2 linked regions of the Homo sapiens genome follow. Each later gene encodes a partner of the first gene's protein in a complex. Links are inferred from orthologs where the notes say so. Each region holds a gene or a part of one and is shown on either strand. Other genes may lie near its edges.

Evidence for each region.
Region 2: the proteins of DYDC2 (region 1) and NME5 are in contact, whole or in part, in a cryo-EM structure (PDB 8X2U), measured with the Mus musculus proteins. The link is inferred for Homo sapiens from one-to-one orthologs. Residues at the interface, in NP_001347537.1 of Mus musculus: Asp2, Tyr5, Leu6, Cys9, Phe10, Gly13, Leu14, Leu18, Val21, Ala22, Arg23, Val24, Arg25, Pro26, Asp28, Pro29, Ile30, Glu31, Leu33, Ala34, His35, Leu37, Tyr38, Tyr40, Arg41; in NP_542368.2 of Mus musculus: Arg140, Ala145, Val146, Ile147, Ile151, Pro152, Ala156, Ala157, Tyr160, Ile161, Tyr164, Val165, Thr168, Leu169, Leu173, Leu176, Cys177, Lys180, Pro181, Asp183, Pro184, Tyr185, Leu186, Leu188, Ala189, Asp190, Leu192, Met193, Asn196, Pro197.

Annotation. Positions count from the first base shown.
Region 1 is NC_000010.11:80,350,294-80,361,956, reverse strand, and holds the start of DYDC2 (DPY30 domain-containing protein 2), read right to left. Parts: upstream 5,177-11,663; 5' UTR 5,132-5,176; intron 4,065-5,131; 5' UTR 3,912-4,064; intron 3,089-3,911; exon of another isoform or gene 3,058-3,088; intron 3,032-3,057; exon of another isoform or gene 3,012-3,031; intron 1-3,011. Other genes in the region: DYDC1 (DPY30 domain-containing protein 1), read left to right, coding at 9,356-9,502, 9,955-10,056.
Region 2 is NC_000005.10:138,134,948-138,147,518, reverse strand, and holds the start of NME5 (nucleoside diphosphate kinase homolog 5), read left to right. Parts: upstream 1-8,090; 5' UTR 8,091-8,130; coding exon of another isoform or gene 8,131-8,148; exon of another isoform or gene 8,149-8,615; intron 8,616-8,733; 5' UTR 8,734-8,738; coding exon 8,739-8,867; intron 8,868-12,571. Other genes in the region: BRD8 (bromodomain-containing protein 8), read left to right, coding at 1,641-1,730, 2,274-2,342, 6,637-6,814, 7,353-7,445. UniProt on the Homo sapiens protein: Functions as part of axonemal radial spoke complexes that play an important part in the motility of sperm and cilia. Does not seem to have nucleoside diphosphate kinase (NDPK) activity.

The sequences.
Region 1 (11,663 bases):
ACGCTAAGCATATAAACCTTGCTTGTAAATAGCCTTCATCACTTAAGAGGAATCAGGGCTCCTTGGAGAAATGGCTGATTCCAAGGCTGGGGCAGGACAAGCCTAACGAGCCTGGAACATTTTGTTGTGCCAGAAAGTAAGAAAATTCTAAAAAATACAATCGTTGGGGACAGAGAAGCCAGCTTGAAGGGGCTCCTACTAGTCAAATCTGGGGCAGTTTGACCATTAAAATAGTGACTGTAATGGATTATAACTTACAGAATAAAATAAGAATCCATGAGTCCATATGAGAATATATAAGTAGATTAAGAAGGGAGAAGGCAAAGTTCTTTGTTAAAGTAGAATGCCAACTAATAAATGTGGGGAAAATAATGGAGTTTTAAAAAACTGCCATTTCCTCACCACCATAGTATAACTGAATCAAAGCAGGATCATCAATGAGTCAATGAGTGCTAAACCTGGGTGATCATTTGACAAGGAATAAGATATATGCATAGTCTCAAAGTTTCTTCTCACAAATTAAGTATTAATTCCAAAGGAAATACAGAAATTTTACAGTGGCAAAACCTGGCCAACAAAACCTTAACCAAGTAATCAAAGTAAACATCACCAACAAAGGAACAAAGTGACATCAACTGCCTCCTGATGTGATGCACTTCTTATGGTACATAAAACATTTCCGTGGATTCCTGCCTAAAATGCAATATTTGAATGTAATTGAAGAAACATCAAATAAATCCAAAGCAACTACCCTGTACTCTTAAAAATGTTGAGGGTATGAAAAAAAAAAGAGTAACTGTTATAGATCAAAGGAGATTGAACAGCCATAATAACTACATGTAACACATGATCCTAGATTGGGCCTGGACAAGAAAAAATAATTCAGCTGGGCATGGTGGTGCACGCCTATAAATCCAGCACTTTGGGAGGCTGAGGCAGGAGGATCACTTGAGCTCAGGGGTTTGATACCAGCCTGGGCAACAAGGCAAAACCCTGTCTCCACAAAAAATACAAAAATTAGCCAGGTGTGATGGCACACACCTGCAGTCCCAGCTACTTGGAGGGGTTGGGGGCAGGGCTGAGGTGGGAGGATCACTTGAGCCCAGGAGGTTGTGGCTGCAATGCGTTGAGATCTCACCACTGCACTCCAACCTGGGTGACAGAGCGAGACCCTGTCTAAAAAAAAAAAAAAAGAAAGAAAGAAAAGAAGAAGAAAGAATTCTATAAAGGGCATTGTTGGGAAAATTGGTTGAACTGAATGTGAAATGTAGATTATGTGACATAATTTATCCAAGTTAAATTTCTTAATTTTGAATAATGGAAATATGAGTAAGAGAATGTCCTTGTTCTAGGGCTGAATAATGGCTCCCAAATGTGTCTATGTCTGAATACCTGGAAACTATGAATATGTCACCTTAAATGGCAAAAGAGACTTTGTAACTGTGATTAAATTAAGGATCTTGAGATAGGGGGATTATCCTGGATTATCTGAGTAGGAACAATGTAATCACAGGTGTCACTATAAGAGGGACACAGTACGGTCAGACAGGGAAGGTGATGACAGAGCCAAGGGAGAAAAAGCGATGTGATTCAGGGCCTTGAGCCAAGGGTATCCTCTAGAAGCTGGAAAAGACAAGAAAATGGATTCTCCCCAGAGCCTCCTGAGGAACCTGCCCTGCTGACACTTTGGTTTTAGCTCTATAAGATTCATTTTGGACTTCTGACCCCAAGACCTGTAAGGGAATTAAAAAAAAATTGAGTGGGGTAGTGATGGAGGGTGGGGACAGAGGTGGGTGGTGTCTCCTGCCAATCTGTGTGGCCCACTTGAACCAATGCATTTGGATAAACAAACTTCTACACCCCTCTTACTCAAAGCTAGTCTGACGACAGATGACCAGCAGCATTCCATCACCTGGGTGAGAGGTGACAGCGTGCTGGCAGCCCTCTCTTGCTCTTGGCACCTCCTCGGCCTTGGTGCCCACTCTGGCCATGCTTGAGGAGCCCTTCAGCCCGCCGCTGCACTGTGGGAGCCCCTCTGGGCTGGCCAAGGCCGGAGCCGGCTCTGCTTGCAGGGAGGTGTGGAGGGAGAGGCGCGGGCGGGAAATGGGGCCGCGTGTGGCACTCGCAGGCCAGCGCAAGTTCCGGGTGGGCGCGGGCTTGGTGGGCCCCGCACTCGGATCAGCCGGCCAGCACTGCAGGCCCCAGGCAGTGAGGAGCTTAGCACTGGGCCAGCAGCTGCAGAGGGTGTGCTGGGTCCCCCAGCAGTGCCGGCCTGCCAGCACTTTGCTCGAATTCTTGCCGGGCCTCTACTGCCTCCCCACGGGGCTCCGGACATGCAGCCCGCCATGCCCGAGCCTCCCCCGCACCGTGGGCTCCTGTGCTGTCGGAGCCTCCCTGATGAGCGCCACCCACTGCTCCGCGGTGCCCGGTCCCATCGACCGCCCAAGGGCTGAGGAGTGCGGGCACACTACGTGGGACTGGCAGGCAGCTCCGCCTGCAGCCCTGATGCGGGATCCACTAGGTGAAGCCATTTGGGCTCCTGAGTCTAGTGGAGACTTGGAGAATCTTTATGTCTAGCTAAGGGATTGTAAATACACCAATCAGCATTCTGTGTCTAGCTCAAGGTTTGTAAATGTACCAATCAGCACCCCGTGTCTAGCTCAAGGTTTGTAAATGCACCAATCAGTGCTCTGTGTCTAGCTAATCTAGTGGGGACTTGGAGAACTTTTGTGTCTAGCTCAAGGATTGTAAACACACCAATCAGCACCCTGTCAAAATGGACCAATCAGCTCTCTGTAAAACAGAGCAATCAGCTCTCTGTAAAATGAACCAATCAGCAGGATGTGGGTAGGGCCGGATAAGGGAATAAAAGCAGGCTGCCTGAGCCAGCAGCTGCAACCTGCTCTGGGTTCCCTTCCACACTGGAAGCTTTGTTCTTTTGCTCTTTGTAGTAAATCTTGCTGCTGCTCATTGTTTGGGTCTGCACTGCCTTTATGAGCTGTAACACTCACTGCAAAGGTCTGCAGCTTCACTTCTGAAGGGAGACCAGCAACCCACCAGAAGGAAGAAACTCTGAACACATCCGAACATCAAAAGGAACGAACTCTGGACACGCCGCCTTTAAGAACTGTAATACTCACTGTGAGGGTCCACGGCTTCATTCTAGAACTCAGTGAGACCAAGAACCCACCAATTCTGGACACATTGGGACTTGTTGAGATGCAGAATCTCAGGTCCCACCACAGATTCAGAACCTGCATGTTAATAAAATCTCCAAGCGACCTGTAGTTACCAATCTACTTTGCCTGGATCACTGTAGAACTGTCCTTCCCCGAAGGCAGAATCACCAACTCTGCATTCTCTAGTCAGGGGGTGGCTGCCACACTGGTTACATGTGGCAAGCCGTATTGGCATACCTCCCCCTACTCTAAATTGCCCATTTTCAACAATGATCTGAAGGAAATGTGTTTGCCCAACAGTCGCTAAAATATGGTACAAAGACAGTAGAGCCAGCATAGAGCCATAATCTGAGGGCTGGAGGGGAAGGAGTCAAGGGGATGCCTTTTATTTTTTATTTTTAAGAGAGAGCCTTGGTCTGTCGCCCAGGCTGGAGTGCAGTGGCACAATCTCGTCTTACTGCAATCTCTGCCTCCTTGGTTCAAGCAATTCCGCTGTCTCAGCCTCCTGAGGAGCTGGGATTACAGGTGTGCGCCACCACACCTGGCTAATTTTTGTATTTTTAGTAGAGATGGGGTTTCTCCATGTTGGCCAGGCTGGTTTTGAATTCCTCACCTCAGGTGATCCGCCCACCTCCGCCTCCCAAAGTGCTAGGATTACAGGCGGTGAGCCACCGCGCCTGGCCAAGGGGATGCCTTTTAAAGCCCACTCAGACCAACTTAGGGTACACTCACCAATGGGGGGAGAGGCTATTTTTCAGTGTTTCCCAGAGCTCCTCTGAGGGTCTGCTTACACAGTTCCTGGACTTGCACTCAGTAGGCAAGGTGATAAGAATAGGGGTTGTCTTTGTTTACTGTATACCGCCCACGCTTGGCACACTGGGAGCTCTGTAAATATTTCTTGACTTATTCATTGAGAGAGTTCTGCCACCTGCCCTCATGCTTCCCTTTGATTTTTCCACGCCCAATCTGGCATTTACTAGCTCAACTAACATCTATTAAGGCCTCTCTTGCCTGGCACTGCCCCGCCCATAAGCTGAAAGAGAGCACAGGAAAGGCTAGCACATGCACAGACGACTAGGCCAGGGAAGACTGCAAGGGTTTGGGCCTGGTGGAGACTGGACGGCTTCCCGGTGGTGGGGCACCCGAATTGGTTCTGAAAGGAACCAAGCAGAGGTCACCAGCAAGAGCAAAGGTGCAGAGTTGTGAAACTGCCAAGCTATTAGCAGCTTGCAGTGACGGTCTTCCAGGGACTCTGGAAGGTCTTCCACCCTTTTCCGATTGGCTGCCCTTCCTGGTTCCTCCTCAAAGCCCGCCACCTCTTTGTCTCTCCCAGAGCATGCCGGGCTGCCAGTCAGGGTCCCTTGCTCTTTTGTGTGCCCCTACTCCTCCAGGTTTCTGTGTAGCAAGTCTCCTCGGCTCACCCACCCCGCGCGCCTCCACATACGCCTTTCCTCGACCCCTCACGAGCACACGCCCGTCCCGCGTGCCCGCTCCTCTCTGCCTCCCGCCCCGATCCTACGCTCCCCCTCCTCCCTGGACCCCGCCCCCTGGAGCGCGCCCGCTTCTCTCTGCCACGCTCCCCTTCTTTCATTCCCTCTCCTCTCTGCCCGTTGCCCCCTCGTGCGCGCTCTCCCTCCTGCACACCGCCTCATCTCTGCCGCAGGCCCGACTCCTGAACGCCCCCTCCTCTCTGGCCCCCTCCCCTGGCGCGCGCCCCCTTCCGCACGACCCCTTCTCTCTGCCGGGCGCCCCGCGCCTGCACGCCCCCTCCTCTCTGCCGCGCCCCCTCTACTCTGCGGCGGGCTCCTACTCCTGCACGCCCCCTCCACTCTGCCGCGCCCCCTCTACTCTGCCGCGCCCCCTCTACTCTGCCGCCTGCTCCTACTCCTGCACGCCCTCTCCTCTCTGCTGCGCGTTCCCCCTTCGCTGCCCACCGCGTGCCCTCTGCTCACCTATCCGCGCGCCCCTTCCGCTTTGCGGCGCCTACACTGGCTCCTGAGGCGCGAGCTCTCGTTGCCTGGCAACGGGACGCCGCTCCTGGGTGGCGAGCAGGCGCGTGTGTAGGGGTGAGCGCACCGGAAAGGCCCGAACTGTTTTTGGGATTTGTTCCCCTAGCTTCGCTGGGTCCGGCGGGCAGAGGCGGTTCTGACCGTTGGGCCTTGGGCGTCGAGCAGGACTCACCTGAGGCGGAGAGAGGCCGCTTCGCGCCTGGGGCTCCCGAAAGCGGCCAGCTGTCCTCCTGCTCCCCCTGAGCGGGGAGCGCTGCGTCTCCTGCGGGCTGCGGGAGACCCTTCCAGACTCCCGGGTGGGAAAACCACACTGAGCGCCCCGGGAGGTTGCCAGATACAATACTGTATCTGGCACCCCTGCCCGGGTGCCCCCGCCCAGTTGGCTGGCTGGCTGGCTAGCTGTCTCCCAGGTGTGGGTAAGGAATCTCCTTCCATCTCTGTGGCACCTTCTTCACGCTGGAGGCAGCTGTTTCTGTGGGAAAGGGCTTTCTTATGTTGAGCCAAGATGCCTATTGGTGTATGTGAAAAATAACATTGCTTACCACAGGAGAGATGGGTATTATCCTCGTTTCACAGACAGGAACATGCTAAGGGAGTTGGCAGGCCTTGCCTGGGTCCCACTGATATGCCCAGAAATCCGAGACAGAGCCTCCCCTGACCTGGCCCCGCTGGTAGGCCAGAAGTTTTCTCTTTAGGGATAATGGTCCCCTTCCTCCCTTCCCACATTTTATCCTTCTGGAGCAGCAACAGGAGTCTGTGCACCTTTTTTTTTTTTTTTTTTTAACTTCACTTCAAATGACTTTGAGATGTCTGTGTAGCGTTTTGGTCTTTCAGGTATATCCTACTGAAGAAATACAGTGAAGATACTGTGTTCCAAAGTCAGTTGTAATAATTCTTTTCTCTGTATGGTTGAGACACCAATATCAACCTCATTTGGAATTAGGTTCATTTGTGCCAGTTTGTTTTCCGTTTTTAGAGTTTTTATGACTATGTTTACATATACACACATACACATTCCTTTCCCCACTGCTGTTGCTAATACAAAAGATGACAGACCATATACAATTTCAGCACCTCGTTTTCTTTATTCTGTGTCTTAGAGATCACTCTCTAGTTTCTTCATTCTCTTGTACATCTGCATAATAATCCATTGTGTTGCTCTTATTAATCCCCAATTTGATGAACATTTAGATGGTGCTTCAGTGTGACTATTGTAAATAATGCTGCAAATAACTGTGTGCATATGCCATTTCATATTTTTGCAACTATATCTTTGAGATAGGATCCAAGAAGCAAGATTGATGAGTCAAAGGGTGAATGCATATGTGATTTTCTAGATGTTGTCAAATTCTCCTCCATAGGAGTTATACCATTTTGCCCTCCCACCACTGTCATATGGCATATGCACATAGTTATGGCATAAAATTTCAGAGACACTGACATCCTGGGGTTCATCCATAGAATAAAAATTGGGGGTTATGGACGGACCCCAGGATGTCACTGTCTCTGAAATTTTATGCAAAATGCTAGATGCATTTGTCCAGGGACAAGTTTAGACACAGTGGCATTCTATCCCCTGTAATTGCCATGCTCATTCCTATATCAGGGCCTTTCCTCATACCTAGAAGACTCTTCTCTTCTTTGTCGTGTTAATTTTACTGTTTTTTTTTTTCAGTAAATGTAAGCTTAGCTCAAATGTCACCCCCAAAGAAGCTTTTTTTTTACTTTCCTGACTTGATCAGCTACTCCTCTTGTCTGGTCTCATAGTACTTATTTTAACTGCAATTTCATATTTATTGATTTAAATATTTATCTTCCTTTCTCATCTATAAGCTCCATGAAGGCAGAGACTGTTTTTGTTTTAGTTTGCGCTGCTGTAGCAAATTACCAACACTGGGTGGCTTAAAAACAATACACATTTATTTCTCACCATTCTGGAGGCTGGGAAGTCTAAAATCAAGGCATTGGCATTTCTGGTGTCTGGTGAGGACCCTCTGGCTGGTGTGCAGGTGGCTGTCTTCTAGTTTTATTCTCAGATGGCAGAGAGTGAGAGCACGCTCTCCCATCTCTTTTTATAAGGGCATTAATCCCATGCATGACGGCTCCACACTAATGATCTAATCACTTCCCAAAGGCTCCTAATACCATCACATTGGGAGTTAGGATTTCAACATATGGATTTTTGGGGGACACAGATATTCAATTCACAATAGTTTTGTATTCCCAGTACCTATCATGGTGCCTGACCTATAATAGGTATTCTTTTTTTTTTTTTTTTTTTTGAGACGAAGTTTCACTCTTGTTGCCCAGGCTGGAGTGCAATGGCACAATCTCAGCTCACTGCAACCTCTGCCTCCCGGGTTCAAGTGATTCTCCTGCCTCAGCCTTCCAAGTAGCTGGGATTACAGGTATGTGCCACCACGCCCAGATAATTTTGTATTTTTAGTAGAGACAGCATTTCACTATTGTGGCCAGGCTGGTCTCGAACTCCTGACCTCAGGTGATCCACCCACCTCAGCCTCCCAAAGTGCTAGGATTACAGGTGTGAGCCACTGTGCCCGGCAAATATTCATTATACATTTGTTTAACAATTGATTACATTTCATCAGATTCTCAGGAAAAAATATATATATATATATTTTTTTTTATATATGAGACAGAGTCTCACTCTGTCGCCCAGGCTGGAGTGCAGTGGCACGATCTTGGCTCACTGCAAGCTCCGCCTCCCAGGTTCACCCCATTCTCCTGCCTCAGCCTCCCAAGTAGCTGGGACTACAGGCGCCCGCCACCACGCCCAGCTAATTTGTTTGTATTTTCAGTAGAGACTGGGTTTCACATAGTTTCCAAAAGGGCTCCAAGGAAGTCACTACAACTAACATGGTTTCAAAATCCTGAAGGACTCTCAAGTCCAAGAGTCAGAAAAGAGATATTATCATTATTGATTTCAAGTTTACTTGATGCCAAGTAATGTGGGTCTCATGTAATCCTCACAACATACCTGAAAAATGGGTATCATCATCCCAGTGGGAAGATGAGCAAGCCCAGGCACAGACAGAGTAAGTGCACAGTTCAGGATCACACAGCTGGCAGATGAAGGAGATCCGTTAGCCAGGATGGTCTCGATCTCCTGACCTTGTGATCCGCCCGCCTCGGCCTCCCAAAGTGCTGTGATTACAGGCGTGAGCCACTGTGCCCAGCCGATTTCTTAAAATATTAAGGGTAATCTGAGGGTGATCAATTTTTCCAAAGCATCTGAAAGAGATTGGTTGCTCCATTTTTCCTTTTCTGTTTTAAAAACAATCTGGTCGGCCAGGCGCGGTGGCTCACGCCTGTAATCCCAGCACTTTGGGAGGCCGAGGTGGGCGGATCACGAGGTCAGGAGATCGAGACCATCCTAGCTAACACAGTGAAACCCTGTCTCTACTAAAAATACAAAAAAAATTAGCCAGACATGTCCATGGAATTAGAGCCCAGGGTGTGCTGGGGCCAGGAGAGATGATGTCTGGAGGTGAACTTGAAAAGAAAATTGGGGCCAGATTGTGAGGAGCTTCATATGTTATTATTTGGAGGCTGAGTTTTTATTCTTTGGCCTTGGAAATTTATGGATTTTTTTTTTTCAAAAGGTGGACTATTGTGATGCTTTGTAAAAACGGCTCTCATGGCTTAGGAGGAACATTTTAGTGTAGTCTTTAGGGTTAGGGTTTTGGAATCAAGAGGTGGGTACAAACCCTGTCTCCTTCATCTGCCAGCTGTGTGATCCTGAACTGTGCACTTACGCTGTCTGTGCCTGGGCTTGCTCATCTTCCCACTGGGATGATGATACCCATTTTTCAGGTATGTTGTGAGGATTACATGAGACCCACATTACTTGGCATCAAGTAAACTTGGAATCAATAATGATAATATCTCTTTTCTGACTCTTGGACTTGAGAGTCCTTCAGGATTTTGAAACCATGTTAGTTGTAGTGACTTCCTTGGAGCCCTTTTGGAAACTATTAGAAGTTTCCTGGGGCCAGCTTGCTTGTGACACCCCCAATGGGAGGTGTCCATGACTGAGGGCAGGGTGTATGTAAGGCTTTGTTCACCTCACTGGACTTTAGTTTTATAGTGACTTTATTGAAAATATCCTGCAGTAATGCAAAAACACTTACTTTTTAGGAGTTAGAAATGGAGTCAATATATCTTCAAAAGCACCTTGGGGCCTGTTTAACTCAAGGTCTTGCAGAAGTGGCAAGAGTTCGCCCAGTGGATCCGATAGAATATTTAGCATTGTGGATTTACAAGTATAAGGAAAATGTGACCATGGAACAACTGGTAAGTAGGAATCTCCTTCTAGGAAATTAGAAGAAAAAAAACTGGTCCAACTTGTCTGCTTTTAAAAAAGTTTAACATTATTATTTTTCTGTTATAAAAATAATGTTTATTATACAAAAACTTGAACAACATGAAAAGCAGGAAGGAGAAAACATTACCCAAAGAAGACTTCTATTTAGATTTTTAGGTAATTCCTTTCATGGGAAGTCTTTTTTCTATAGATTTATAGATTTACGTTTATGTACTTGTGATCATACACAATGTATAACTTTAATATTGTGCTCATTATTCAGATAAAATATCTTCCCAAATTATTATATCATTTCCACAGGGATGGGCTATAATTTGCTTAACACTTTCCCTAATTGTTCCTATTAAGTGCTTTCAAGATTGCTTTTACAAATTGCTTTCTCGCTAAGAAGTCGTGTGCTGTTGTTTTTAAACAATGCTAGAGACAAAAGGAAATGGCCAAGCTGGAGCGTGAAAGAGAATTAGCTCTGATGGAGCAGGAAATGATGGAGAGGCTCAAAGCAGAGGAGCTCTTACTTCAGCAGGTGAGGCAAGTAGGAGAGTTCAGAGGGGACTGGAATTAACGATGCCAACCTCAGCATGGCACAGCCTAAATGTTGATAAACTTCCCAGCTCCAGTTATTTAGATATGGCTTCCTAATATCTTCATCTTTATGGATGTGTGTGTCTTCTTTGCTGGAGAAGCAGCAGCCATGAGTTTTCCTGAGTGCATTCTTGTATACACATATACACATTCCTTTCCACACTGTTGTTGCTGATACAAAAGATGCCATACCTCCAGGTAAGAGGAAAATACAGAGTGTGCTGTCACAGAAGGCAAAGGGAAAGACTGTTTTGGTGAGATCTGAGTGGTCAACCATATCTATTGCTGAATGGAAAAGTGTTCATGAGAGGCCACCGTAATTTGGCGGGAACAGTGTGGATGGAGTGGTGGGGGTGGGTGGACTTAGGCAGGGGAGGTGGAAAATGTAGGCAATGCTTTCAAGGAGATTTTGATAGCAAGGAGAGATGTTTTTGTGTTTGTTTTGATTTAAGAGCACAGTAGTGGAGGAGTGAGTGGGTGACATTAGGAAATAGAGTGGATGATTCGTAGGGTCAGCTCACCATGGAGATGAGAGGAAATGGGCCTGGATCATAGGTTGGGCAGGGAGAAGGCACTTCTTTGATTATAATCAAGGGAAAGAGGAGAGAATGGTGTTGGTGGAAGCACCTTCTGCGTACAACTGTTTCTGTCTTCTTTATGAAGTAGGCACCATGTTCACTTGCTAAGAACAAGGTTGTAAGGTAGGAGGTGTGGGCAGAGTGGTGAAGTTAGAAATGACAGCTTTGGAGAATGGAAGAGAGAGTTGAGGGATATAATTTAGCATTACTTGGTAGCAGTTGAAGATCAAGTACTGATAATCGTGCCATTTGATTTGGTTATGTGATGATGTGATTCTCTTCACTTGGGCCCAGATGTCTGAGTGAAGAAGTGGAGCAGGCAGACCTTTTAATTGAAGCAGGATTGGGGTAGCATGATTAGGGAGCTGAAGATATTGGTAAGGGAATTGTTGAAGGGATGGGTCATGGAGTACAAGCTGGAGAGAGGAAAGTTCCAGAATGGCTTCTGGACTGATTTAATTTATAGAGAGCTTCTAAGCTAAATTTAAGCCACTTCCATAGTTCTACCAGATAATACTTAACCCCAGAGTCTTGACTCAAATTTACATATTTAAAAAGGGGAAAGAAGCCTATTATTTGAGTATGTGGATAGAAAGAAAAATATAGACCTGGCAAATAGCTTCTCTGACTAACCTCCTATCCCTGATATTGAGGTAGAAAACTGCAGGCCCCTTAGAAGGATAGGGCTGTTGAAAACTCTACTCCTTCTGAGTCTTCATTTTCAGTCATTGGCTTATTCTTGAAGGGAGGTTAAAAAGTGTTGAGTTGGGTGTCAACTGTCATCCAAACAGGCCAGGTGCTTCCTGCAGCAGCCACAACTGTGGATGAGGAGCCATCCTTCCTCTTACAGCTCCTATAGCTGGTATCTGTTCCTGTCTATCAAAAATAAGAGAATTCCCAGAGGTTCTCCTTCCCCTAGGCAATTACATCGTAAGTGGGAGATACATAACTCTCTTCGGCTCGACTACTT
Region 2 (12,571 bases), on another chromosome or scaffold:
TTTGTTATGGTAATAAATAAATTGTTCTTTTTCCAGCCTGTGTCAGATCCATCTGTTGAGAGAATATAGTATGAACTGTTTTTTTTTTCTTCAGTATATCCCAGATCCACCCAGTTGTCTGTGGAAAGGTAAAACTAATAATTATTCTAGTGTTTTTTTGTTTAAGATATACAGCTGAACCATGCATATATTTATATATGAATATATATATATATATATTTTTTGAAGAGCAGATTTCTTTTTTTTCTCATAGAGACAGGGTCTTGCTTTGTTGCCCAAGCTGGGTCTTGAACTCCTGGCTTCAAGCAATCCCACCTCAGCCTCCCAAAGTACTGGGATTATAAGCCTGAGCCACTGTGCCCAGCCTAGATTTCAATTTTTGGTACACAAATAGGATACAGTTTAAAATGTAGATTGGTGAGGAATGCCTTCATTTGCTTTTCTTTAACTCCTTAAGTATGAGCAATAGAGTGCAGAGATGACATACTGTGACTGTACAAACAGCAGGAAATCTGCAATCTGAGACTTTTTTTTTTTTTTTTTTTTTTTGAGACGGAGTTTCGCTCGGTCGCCCAGGCTGCAGTGCAGTGGCGTGATCTCGGCTCACTGCAAGCTCTGCCTCCTAGGTTCACACCATTCTCCTGCCTCAGCCTCCCAAGTAGCTGGGACTACAGGCACCCGCCACCACGCCCAGCTAATTTTTTGTGTATTTTTAGTAGAAACGGGGTTTCACCGTGTTAGCCAGGATGGTCTCAATCTCCTGACCTTGTGATCCGCCTGCCTCGGCCTCCCAAAGTGCTGGGATTACAGGCGTGAGCCACCACACCGGGCCCAATCTGAGACATCTTATCTCATGACAGTTCATAGTCTTGGATGGTAAATTCCACATTCTTACCTTACAATTTAGATTAAATATGAAATCTTTATTAGAAAGCAGTAGATATCCAGCCTGGGCAACGTAGTGGGACCTTGTCTCTACAACAAATACAGAAATTAGCTGCAGGGCGTGGTGGCATGTGCCTGGAGTCCCAGCTACTTGGGAGGCTGAGGCAGGAGGATCGCTTGAGCCCAGCAGGTTGAGGCTGCAGTAAGCCACGATCACACTACTGCACTCCAGCCTGGGCAACAGAGCAAGACCCTGTCTCAAAAAAAAAAAAAATTGGCTGGGCATGGTGGTTCATGCCTGTAATCCCAGCACTTTGGGAGGCTGAGGCGGGTGGATCACTTAAGGCCAGGAGTTTGAGACCAGCCTGGCCAACATGGCAAAACCCCGTCTCTATGGAAAATACAAAAATTAGTTGGGTGTGGTGGTATGCAACTTTAGTCCCAGCTACTTGGGAGGCTGAGGCAGGAGAATCGCTGGAACCCGGGAGGCAGAGGTTGCAGTGAGCTGAGATCATGCCACTGCACTCCAGCCTGGGCAACAGAGCAAGACTCTGTCTCAGAAAAATAAAATTAAAAAATTAAAAGAGAAAACAATAGATATTAATAACTAAGTCTGCTTGGCCAGATAAGGGGAGATAAAAAGCTTCAGATATTAATTAGGAGCATGTCTTAAGAAAACCTCATTACCCACCTGGGGGAGATAGAATATTATTTGTGAAGTTACTGTCTCTTTTCTTCATGTTTTATCCTCATAGGACTGATCTAAGCCAGGATGACCCTGTTCAGGATCATTTGCTATTTAAGAAGACTCTCCTGCCAGTCTGGAAGATGATTGCCAGTCACAGGTAGGTCTCCAAAGTGGTAATAGGATTATGTTCAGAGCTGAAGCAGTAATACATATTGGGGTTTAAGCATAAAAGGAGATATGTTCATCCCTCAAATGAGCCATAGTTGAAAGGTAGATTCTGTATCTAAGCCCGATTTATCCCAAAGTACCCACAGCTGCTTTCACAAGTCTGTACAAGAAATAGTTGCTGTGCCATTTGAGTTGCCTCTAGAAATTGGTTCCTACTACATGATAAAATTTATATTTAAAATGTATATTCTTCTTTTCAATCTGGTGGATTCTCTTTTTTCACAGAGACAGGGCCTTGGGAACTTTGAACAAATTTCTGAGCCCTAAATCAGTATATTGTAATAATAGTGAAATATTTTATAGTTTTGTGTTTTTTTTAACTCTCTGGCAAGAGGGAACAAATAGATTTTTTCCTAATGGTGCTGACAGTCTGCATTCCCCTAAAGGAAGTCTACTAAGAACTGAGCTACTCTTCTCCTTCAGAGTGCCTTGCCAGGGTTTCTTTATCCTCTCTGGGTTTGTCCCTTAACAGGTTCAGCAGTCCATTTCTGAAGCCTGTGTCAGAAAGGCAGGCCCCAGGGTACAAGGATGTGGTGAAAAGGTCAGTGAAAAAGGGGTCAAGAAAGGTTGGTTGCTTTTATATCTGCCTTTTCATTTTTTATTTCCCATCTGTTAGATTATTTTTATAACTTACAAACTCAAGATATGTTTCATAGCCAAACAAGTTTATAAAGTTATGATGAGCTCAGTATCATATCTTCATTTAAGAAGGAATGCAGGGAACAAAAGGATGATATAGGCTTTTTATTTTGTACTATTGACTTTTAAGTAATATGATCCATTCTATATATATATATATTTTTTTTTTTTTTTTTTTTTGACAGGGTCTCACTCTGTTGCCCAGGCTGGAGTGCAGTGGTACAGTCTTGGCTCACTGCAACATCCTCTTCCCAGGCTCAGCTATTCTCCAGCCTCAGCCTCCCAAGTAGCTAAGACTACAAGCATGAGCCATCACGTCCGGCTAATATTTGTATTTTTTGTAGAAACGGAGCTTTGCCATGTTGCCCAGGCTGGTCTTGAACTCCTGAGCTCAAGCAATCCACCTGCCTAGGCCTTCCAAAGGCTGGGATTATAGGTGTGAGCCTTGGTGTCCAGCCTGATCATTAATTATAATCTTAAATTAGCCTTTGGTTGTTTTTGACACTATTCTTTTGGAGCAAAACTTTAAAAGGAACCCTGTATTTATTCAGTTAGTTATAGGTATAGTAAGGCACAGATGTCGATCCAAATGGAAGTTATGAACATTGGTTGATTGTAGTATTGTGTCCGGAATTGGTTCCTTCCGGTGGGTTCTTGGTCTCGCTGACTTCAGGAATGAAGCTGCAGACTCTCGTGGTGTTACAGTTCTTAAAGATGGTGTGTCCAGAGTTTGTTCCTTCGGATGTTCAGATGTGTCCGGAGTTTCTTCCTCCCGGTGGGTTTGTGGTCTCGCTGAGTTCAGGAGTGAAGCTGCAGACCTTCACAGCGAGTGTTACAGCTCTTAAAGGTGGCGCCTCTGGAGTTGTTCGTTCCTCCCAGTGGGTTGGTGGTCTCGCTGGCTTCAGGAGTGAAGCTGCAGACCTTGGCGGTGAGTGTTACAGCTCTTAAAGGTGGTACATCCGGAGTTGTTTATTCCTCTTGTTGGGTTCGTGGTCTTGCTGGCTTCAGGAGCGAAGCGGCTGACCTTCACGGTGAGTGTTACAGTTCATAAAGGTAGTGCGGACCCAAAGAGTGAGGAGCAGCAAGATTTATTGCGGAGTGAAAGAACAAAGCCTCCACAGTGTGGAAGGGGACTCCAGCGGGTTGCCACTGCTGCCTTGAGGGGCCAGCTTTTATTCCCTTATTTGGCCTCCTCCACATCCTGCTGATTTGTCCATTTTACATAGTACTGATTGGTCCATTTTACAGAGTGCTGATTGGTCCATTTTTATAGAGTGCTGATTGGTGCGTTTACAAACCTTTTTTGGTGCGTTTTTACAGAGTGCTGATTGGTGCATTTACAAAGCTTTAGCTAGACACAGAGCGCTGATTGGTGCATTTACAAATGTTTAGCTAGACACAGAGCGCTGATTGGTGCGTTTTTACAGAGTGCTGATTGGTGTGTTTACAAACCTTTAGCTAGATACAGAGCACTGATTGGTGTGTTTACAATCCTTTAGCTAGACAGAAAAGTTCTCCAAGTCCCACCCAACCCAGAAGCCCAGCCAGCTTCACCTCTCAGTATTTTGGGATTTTATTTTTATTTTTTATTTAAAAAAATTTTTTTGAGACAGGGTCTCACTCTGTTGCTGGAGTGCAGTGGTGCAATCATGGTTCACTGCAGCCTTGACCTCCTGGGCTCAAGCAATCTTCCCACTTCAGCCTCCGGAGTAGCTGGGACTACAGGCATGTGCCACTGCACTTAGCTAATTTTTAAATTTATTATTTTTTAAATTTTTACTTACTATTATTTTTTGAGACAGGTCTCACTCTGTTGCTCAGGCTGGAGTGCAGTGGCACATTTCTTGGATAACTGAGCCTCAACTGCCCAGGTTCAAGCAATCCTTCCACCTCAGCCTCCCTAATAACTGGGTCTAGAGGTGTGTGCCACCATGCCCGGCTAATTTTTGTATTTTTTATAGAGATAGAGTTTCACCATGGTGCCCAGGCTTGTCTCAGACTCCTGGGCTCATGCAGTTCACCCACCTCAGCCTCCCAAAGTGCTGGGATTACAGGTGTGAGCCACTGTGCCTGGCCTGATATTTTTATTATAATAAAATATTTTCTTTGTTTGAAATGTTATTAATAACTTTATTTTTCTTCAGAATATCACTGAGGAGGAATTTTTAAATTTTTTGTAGATATGGGGTCTCACTAGATTGCCCAGGTTGGTCTTAAGCTCGTAGTCTCAAGCAATCCTCCCACCTCAGCCTTCCAAAATGCTGGGATTACAGGCAGGTAATCCTAGCCTATTTTGGATTTTTTTTTTTTTTTTTTTTTGAGACAGTCTTGCTCTGTCACCAGGCTGGAGTGCAGTGATGAGATCTCGGCTCACTGCAACCTCCGCCTCCCGGGTTCAAGTGATTCTCCTGCCTCAGCCTCCTGAGTAGCTGGAACCACAGGCACACGTCACCACGCCCAGCTAATTTTTGTATTTTTAGTAGAGACAGGGTTTCACTATGTTGGCCAGGATGGTCTCAATCTCTTGACCTCGTGATCCGCCTGCCTCGGCCTCCCAAAGTGCTGGGATTACAGGCTTGAACCACTGTGCTCGGCCTATTTTGGGTTTTTATAGCATAGGTCATCTAAAATGCTGTCATAAACCTGTATGGTAATAGAATGTAAAAGATCATGATAGGACCTTTGGAGAGTCACTAGTCTGTGCTGCTATAGCACAATACCACAGGCTGGATAATTTATAAATAATAGAAATCTATGTTTCTTTGTTTTGGTTCTGGAGGCTGGGAAGTGCAAGATCAAGGCATTGGTAGTTTTGGTGTGTGAGGTGGGTTACTCTCTGCTTCTGCTTCTAAGATGATGCCTTGTTGTTGTATTCTGCAGAGGGGACGAATGCTGTATCCTCACATGGCAGAAGGGACAGAAGGATAAGAGGGCACTCTCTTCGATATGGAGCCCTTTTATAAGGATGCTAATCCCATTCATGAAGGCAGAGCACTCATGAATTAATTACCTCCCAAAGGCTCCACCTCTTAATACTGTTGCACTTGGGATTAAGTTTCAACATGAATTTTGGAGGGGATACCATCATTCAAACAGCAGAGACAATGATACCATCATTCAAACAGCAGAGACAAACTTCTTTAGGAATGAGGAAACTAAAGCTCAGAGGTGCTTGGTCATGACTTGCTCGTGATCAACCAACAGTTAATAGCAGAGCTAGAACTAAGCCCCAGATTCTTACCTGCAGTTCAGTCTTCTTTCTACACTGCTGTGCCTTCTCTTATATATCTACTTTCTGTGTCTCATTAATATTGTCTTAATATTCACTTGATCCTTTTTTCATCTCCATGAAAGGAGAAAAAAATTATTCTTAGCTTTTTATTTGTGCAGTAAGAGAAGTAGATGAAATAATATATGACTATACATTGTAAACAGCAAATAACTACTGTGTGATAAACTGATGATTGGTGCTCTTTACAACTTTGATACCTGGGGCCAGCACTCCTCCTCTGATAGTAGAATATAGTGGCTTGACCTGTGGGCTCTGGAGTCAGGCTGCCTCTGAATTGGAATTCAGGCTGTGTGCCTTTCAGTGAGTACTTAACCTCTTTAGATTTCAATTTCTTCATCTGTGAAATGGAGATAATAAGGCCGGGGGCGGTGGCTCACACTTGTAATCCCAGTACTTTGGGAGGCCAAGGAAGGTGGATCCCCTGAGGCTAGGAGTTCGAGACTAGCCTGACCAACATGGTGAAACCCTATCTCTACTAAAAATACAAAAATTAGCTGGGCATGATGGCGCACGCCTGTAATCCCAGCTATTCTGGAGGCTGAGACAGGGGAATTGCTTGAACCTGGAAGGTGGAAGTTGCAGTGAGCTGAGATTGCTCCATTGCACTCCGGCCTGGGCAACAAGAGTGAAACTCCGACTCAAAAAAAAAAAAAATGAGATATTAATGATACCTACCTTACAGGTTTATTGAGAGGATTAAGTGAGTTAGTATAGAAATACAGTGTTTGGCCCATTGTAAACAGGCAAATATTAACTGCTGTTGCTATTTTATTATCTGATGAGGGTTGTTATCTTTGCTACTGTTTTCATTAAGAACTGGTTAGTTCTTCAAGAGAACGTGTTAGGTTATCATATGTTCCACATGAAGGTTTGATTTTCTTTGTTTTTTCTTGGCCACCTGCAGACCCATGGACTTAACTAGCCTGAAGAGAAATCTCTCTAAGGGTCGGATTCGCACCATGGCCCAATTCCTGCGAGACCTGATGCTGATGTTCCAAAATGCTGTAATGTACAATGACTCTGATCATCATGTATACCATATGGCTGTGGAGATGCGGCAAGAAGTCCTGGAGCAGATTCAGGTACTGTATGCAGATACCTGTAGCCTCTGGAATCTTGATTTCAGAACGCCTATGAGAATAAAGGTGATTTCGAGGTGACTGTGTTCTCAGAGTTTATTTTTAAAGGTGATTAAGGCCCTGAAGGATTGATAATGTGCCTGCTGGTTTGGAAAACCCTGAGCCTCAGTAAGTCCAGCTCTGATAGTGAAGTAGTCTAGGAATGCAGGCAGCAGTGAAGAGCTCTCAAGAGAGCTGAGGATAGACAAGTAATGGGAATTCCCGCTTCCAGAGCCTCAAGTCAAGGGCTAAACTCCAAAGAGGCTGGAGTCACTGTGTATTTTTTGGTTGCTTCATCTGTTGTTATTAATGTACGTTCACACTTTCCCATCTTTAGGGGATAAGATATAGTAGCTAGAAGACATTTGTGGGTTTCTTTTCTGGGTAGCATCATACTTTAAAGAAAAAAGTATAGTTGAGTCTATTTGCCAAAAAAATAAACTTGCAATACTTTAGTGTTTAAGGTTCATAATAGCTTGCTATGTGTTCCTTAACCCTTTAGGTACTGAATATCTGGTTAGACAAAAGAAAAGGCTCAAGTAGTCTGGAAGGAGAACCAGCTAACCCAGTGGATGATGGAAAACCTGTTTTCTAACCTGGAGCTGCTATCCTGACTTTTTCTAGAGTTTGAATCTCTCCCGGAACTCTGACCTAGAGAGGATCCTGGTACTTCTTTGCCATGTCCTCATTTTCTTTTCCAACAAGAATAATACCTTAACTCACAACCAACGAGTCAAAGATGCATGTGGACATAATATAAAGAAAAAAAGGGGAAGCTGAGGTTTGGATTTATGCCATAAATGTTGCCCACATCTTTGTTCCATCGGCTTGATTTAAAGACAATTCCATTAGATCTTTTCTAAGCCTTTTACTCTATAAATAAATGTATTTACACAATAGGAATATTGCTTTTTAATGACTAGATAAGCTGGGCATAGAGGGCACAGCATCATCTGGTGAAACGAAGGTATCTGACACGGGTCATTTACATATACCGCCTGGAAAGGAATGGTTGGGGGAGGGGTTCTTATCATTTATAGAGTAGGGATAATTGAAGCATCCTTCAAACGGGAAGAAGGATGAAATAAGATAAATTATGAGTAAAATGTCAGAAAACATCTAGTGCTCTAAGATTCACAAGGAGAATAAAAGTGACTGGCTGGCTCCCTTTGGTTAAAACGAACTGGCCAGAAGCTGCAAGGTTCCTTGCTGGGATTGGCTCTCTGCAGCCACCGTCCCCACGCTGGGGCTTCAGGTCTCCTAGCAACAAGTTGTACCATATGAGGACGGCCGCTGAGGTGAGTACTTAGAGAGGGTCAAATTCAGAATTTGCAGGTGCAACCCGGAAAGTCCCCGCGGACCTAGAGGCCCTGCTTTTCAATTAGCCTGACCCTATGCACAGAGAGGTCCCTGCGGGACAGGGTCGCTTCACAGAGGCAGCTGGCCGAGGCCGCTCACCCGCCGCTGTAATGGTGTGTGGTTGCCCACCAGCCACCGTCCCCTCGAGCCCCCACCACCCGCTCTACCGCCCCCTCGAGCCCCCACCACCCGCCCCACCGCCCTCTGCTGCCTGGGGCTGTTGCTGGTTCCAGGCCTTCGGGTCGCCCCTTGGCCTCTGGTTATGTGAGCCCATAGTCCTTCCTGCCTTGGTGACATCGTATACGAAAAGCCGGGGCTCGATTTGGACATAGTAGGAATCCTATTATTGAGACCCTGTATATAGAAAAACATGGCAGTTTCTACCTTCATCAGTTAATAAAATCAAGTACCTACTATTGCTATTCTTAATCATAATTACATTGAATTTGCGATGGGGGTGGGGGGAAATGCATGTCATTGCAGTTGATACCTGTTAAGAAACTCTTAATTTGTGCCCTGAAAAGCCATAATGGAGATATCAATGCCTCCACCTCAGATATATGTAGAAAAAACTCTGGCCATTATCAAACCAGATATTGTTGACAAAGAGGAGGAGATACAAGATATTATTCTTAGATCCGGATTCACCATTGTTCAGGTAACTTCTGGGTATGATGATTCATGCTTTTTTCCTCTCTGCCCTTAAAAAAAAAATGCTTATGTAAATGTGCCTACCCATTTAAACCCTTAGTGTTCAGCATTAAATTTAAGTTTATTCTTCTAAGTATAAAAGTTATATGTGATAGTTTTTAAAAGGATGTAAAATGAGAAATAAAATGGACTTTTCCTTCACCTGTCCTCTTTTACCCCAAGTCCCAGGCTCCAGAGAGAGGCAACCACTTAACACTTTCTGTTCTTCCAGGAGTTTTCTATGCATTTATAAACATTTTCCCCCCATAAAACAGAACAGTCCCTTTCCCTTGACCCCTTTACAGAGTCCCTCAGATAGGATTCCAGATCATTGCATCTGAATTGATCTCACTCTTCCTAATTTCTGTGTAATATTTCCCTGTGTATTAGAACTACAATTTATTTACTTGATCTTCTATTGATGGAATTTTAGGCTATTGGTACTTTTTTCAGTTATGGCATAACATTTAATGTTTTAAGCCTTATGTTCTGCAATTAGTAAACATTGTCATTCTAGGGGTTTGAAAGTGAATATAAATAGCATTGTTAAGGATAAATCAAATAGAATTGAATATTTTTAATCTTCCTCTTTTATAGTTTTTTTTTCTTTTTTTTGAGACAGAGTCTCCCTCTGTAGCCCAGACTGGAGTGCAGTGGTACGATCTCGGCTCACTGCAACCTCTGCCTTCCAGGTCCCGGTTCAAGCAATTCTCCTGCCTCAGCCTCCTGAGTAGCTGGGATTACAGGCATGCACCACCATGTCCAGCTAATGTTTGTATTTTTAGTAGAGACGGGGTTTTACCATGTTGGCCAGGGTGGTCTTGAACTCCTGACCTCGTGATCCACCCGCCTCGGCCTCCCAAAGTGCTGGGATTACAGGTGTGAGCCACTGCACCCCGCCTCTTTTACAGTATTCTCATTCGAACTTCCAATTTTTTATTTTCTCCCATTTATACAGTGTCATATTGCTTATTCAGTCAGTATTTTTAAAAATAAAGAGAAAATGGCGGGTACGGTGGCTCACGCCTGTAATCCCAGCACTTTGGGAGGCCGAGATGGGTGGATCATAAGGTCAGGAGTTTGAGACCAGCCTGGCCAATGTGGTGAAACCCCATCTCTATGAAAAATACAAAAATTAGCTGGGCGTGGTGGCGTGCACCTGTAGTCCCAGCTACTTGGGAAGCTGAGGCAGGAGAATCGCTTGAACTCAGGAGGCAGAGGTTGCAGTAAGCCAAGACTACGCCATTGTACTCCAGCCTGGGCAATAGAGGGAGATCTGTCTCAAAAAATAAATAAATAAATAAAGAGAAAATATCAATCTTCAGAAAAGATACGGAATTTCAGTTGAGCTTCAAAGGACAGGTGGAGTCCGAGAGTAGGGATGGCACAAGAAAGTGTTAGGAAGTATTTAATATGATTAAAGACTCAGGTAAATAACTTTTTAGTAAATGTTAGGAAAACTGGTAGCCACTGAAAAATTTGGATCAAGTATTATATACCAGGATAAACTCCAAATAAACCTGAGATCTACATATTAAAAAAATTAAACCATGTAAGTTCAGGAAGAAAAGATAATGGATTTATTTTGTTGTTGGAGTAGGACAGCCTTTTTTTTTTTTGTTATGACTTAAGGTCTAGGAGCCATGGAAGAAAAGATTGATAAGATTATATCAACAAGGCCAGGCACGGTGGCTCATGCCTGTAATCCCAAAACTTTGGGAGGCCAAGGTGAGTTGATCACCTGAGGTCAGGAGTTTGAGACCAGCCTGACCAACATGGAGAAACCCCATCTCTACTAAAAAATACAAAATTAGCCAGGCGTGGGGGCGCATGCCTGTAATCCCAGCTACTCAGCAGGCTGAGGCAGGAGAATCGCTTGAACATGGGAGGCGGAGGTTGCCGTGAGCCGAGATCGTGCCATTGTGCTCCAGCCTGGGCAACAAGAGCGAAACTCTCGAAAAAAAAAATTTTTTTAATTTAAAAAAAGATTATATAAACAAAAAATTTCTGCACAATGAAATAAACACCATAAGCAAAGTCAAAACACAACAAACTTGGGAAAAAGATTTGCAACTCATAGACAAAGGGCTTGTCTTCTTAATACATAAAGAGCTCCTAGAAAAAGATAAAAATAAATTAGTAGAAAAATGGGCAGAACAGATGGATGGTCACAGAAAAGGAAAAACATTTTTTAAATATATGAAAAGATGCTCAATCTTTAGGTGGGAAAAAAAGCAAGTTAAAACTACACTGAGATTCCATTTGGCAAAAATATAAAAGTAAATGGCACAACCCCTATCAAAGGGAATCTGGCAGTTATCTACCAATACAACAGATGGACTTACCATTTGATCCAGCAGTTCTGCTCTTGGAAATCTGTCCTATAGAATTCCTTGTGCTCTTACTACCTGTCATGCGCAGAGCCCTGTTTAGTCCCATCAGTAGGTGCCTGTATTAATATGAAGTGATATATATGCAGGTTATTTTTTGCAGCATTGTTTACTTATCAACAAAAGATTGAAAATAACCCAGGTTGGGAGATTGGGAGACAGGACTAAATAAACTCTGGAAAACCCATCAAATTGCATAATATGCAACTAATTGTAAATAGAAGAATGAGGAACCTGTCTGTACTGTTAACGGAAGAAAGCAAAGTGTGTAGCAAAAAGAACAAAATAGCAAAAAAAACACAAAATCATGTGTACCAACCTTTTGTGATAGAGACAAAGTAATATATTCATGTTTGCCAATATTTGAAAAATGGAATTCTGGGGAAATAAACATTTAAAAAGGGTTGCCTATTGAGGGCAAGGAAGAACTGAGTAGATTAGGAAATGGATAGGAATAAGATTTTTCAGTATATACCTTTTTGTCTTGCTTTGAATTTTTGAATCCTGTAATTATATTACCCATTAACTTTAGAAAAAATAAATGAAGTATACAGATAAAGGCGTCCCATTTAAGTTTTTTAAAAGTCCGTATTTTGCCCGGGTGCAGTGGCTCATGCCTGTAAACCCAGCACTTTGGGAGGCCAAGGCGGGTGGATCACCTGAGGTCAGGAGTTGGAGACCAGCCTGACCAACATGGTGAAACCCCGTCTCTACTAAAAATATGAAAATTACCTGGGTGTGGTGGCACGTGCCTGTAATCTCAGCTACTGGGGAGGCTGGGGCAGGAGAATGGCGTGAACCCGGGAGGCGGAGGTTGCAGTGAGTCAAGATCGTGCCATTGCACTCCAGCCTGGGCGACAGAGGGAGACTCTGTCTTGAAAAAGAAAAAAAAGTCCTTTTTTTTTTTTTTGAGACGGAGTCTCGCTCTGTGTCGCCCAGGCTGGAGTGCAGTGGCGCAATCTCGGCTCACGGCAAGCTCCGCCACCCAGGTTCACGCCATTCTCCTGCCTCAGCCTCCCGAGTAGCTGGGACTACAGGCACCCTCCACCACGCCCAGCTAACTTTTTGTATTTTTAGTAGAGACGGGGTTTCACTGTGTTAGCCCGGATGGTCTCGATCTCCTGACCTTGTGATCCACCTGCCTCGGCCTCCCAAAATGCTGGGATTACAGGCGTGAGCCACTATGCCCGGCCAAAAAAGTCCATATTTTAAAAAATATTTAGTGACGGCCGGGCGCGGTGGCTCACGCCTGTAATCCCAGCTCTTTGGGAGGCCGAGGCGG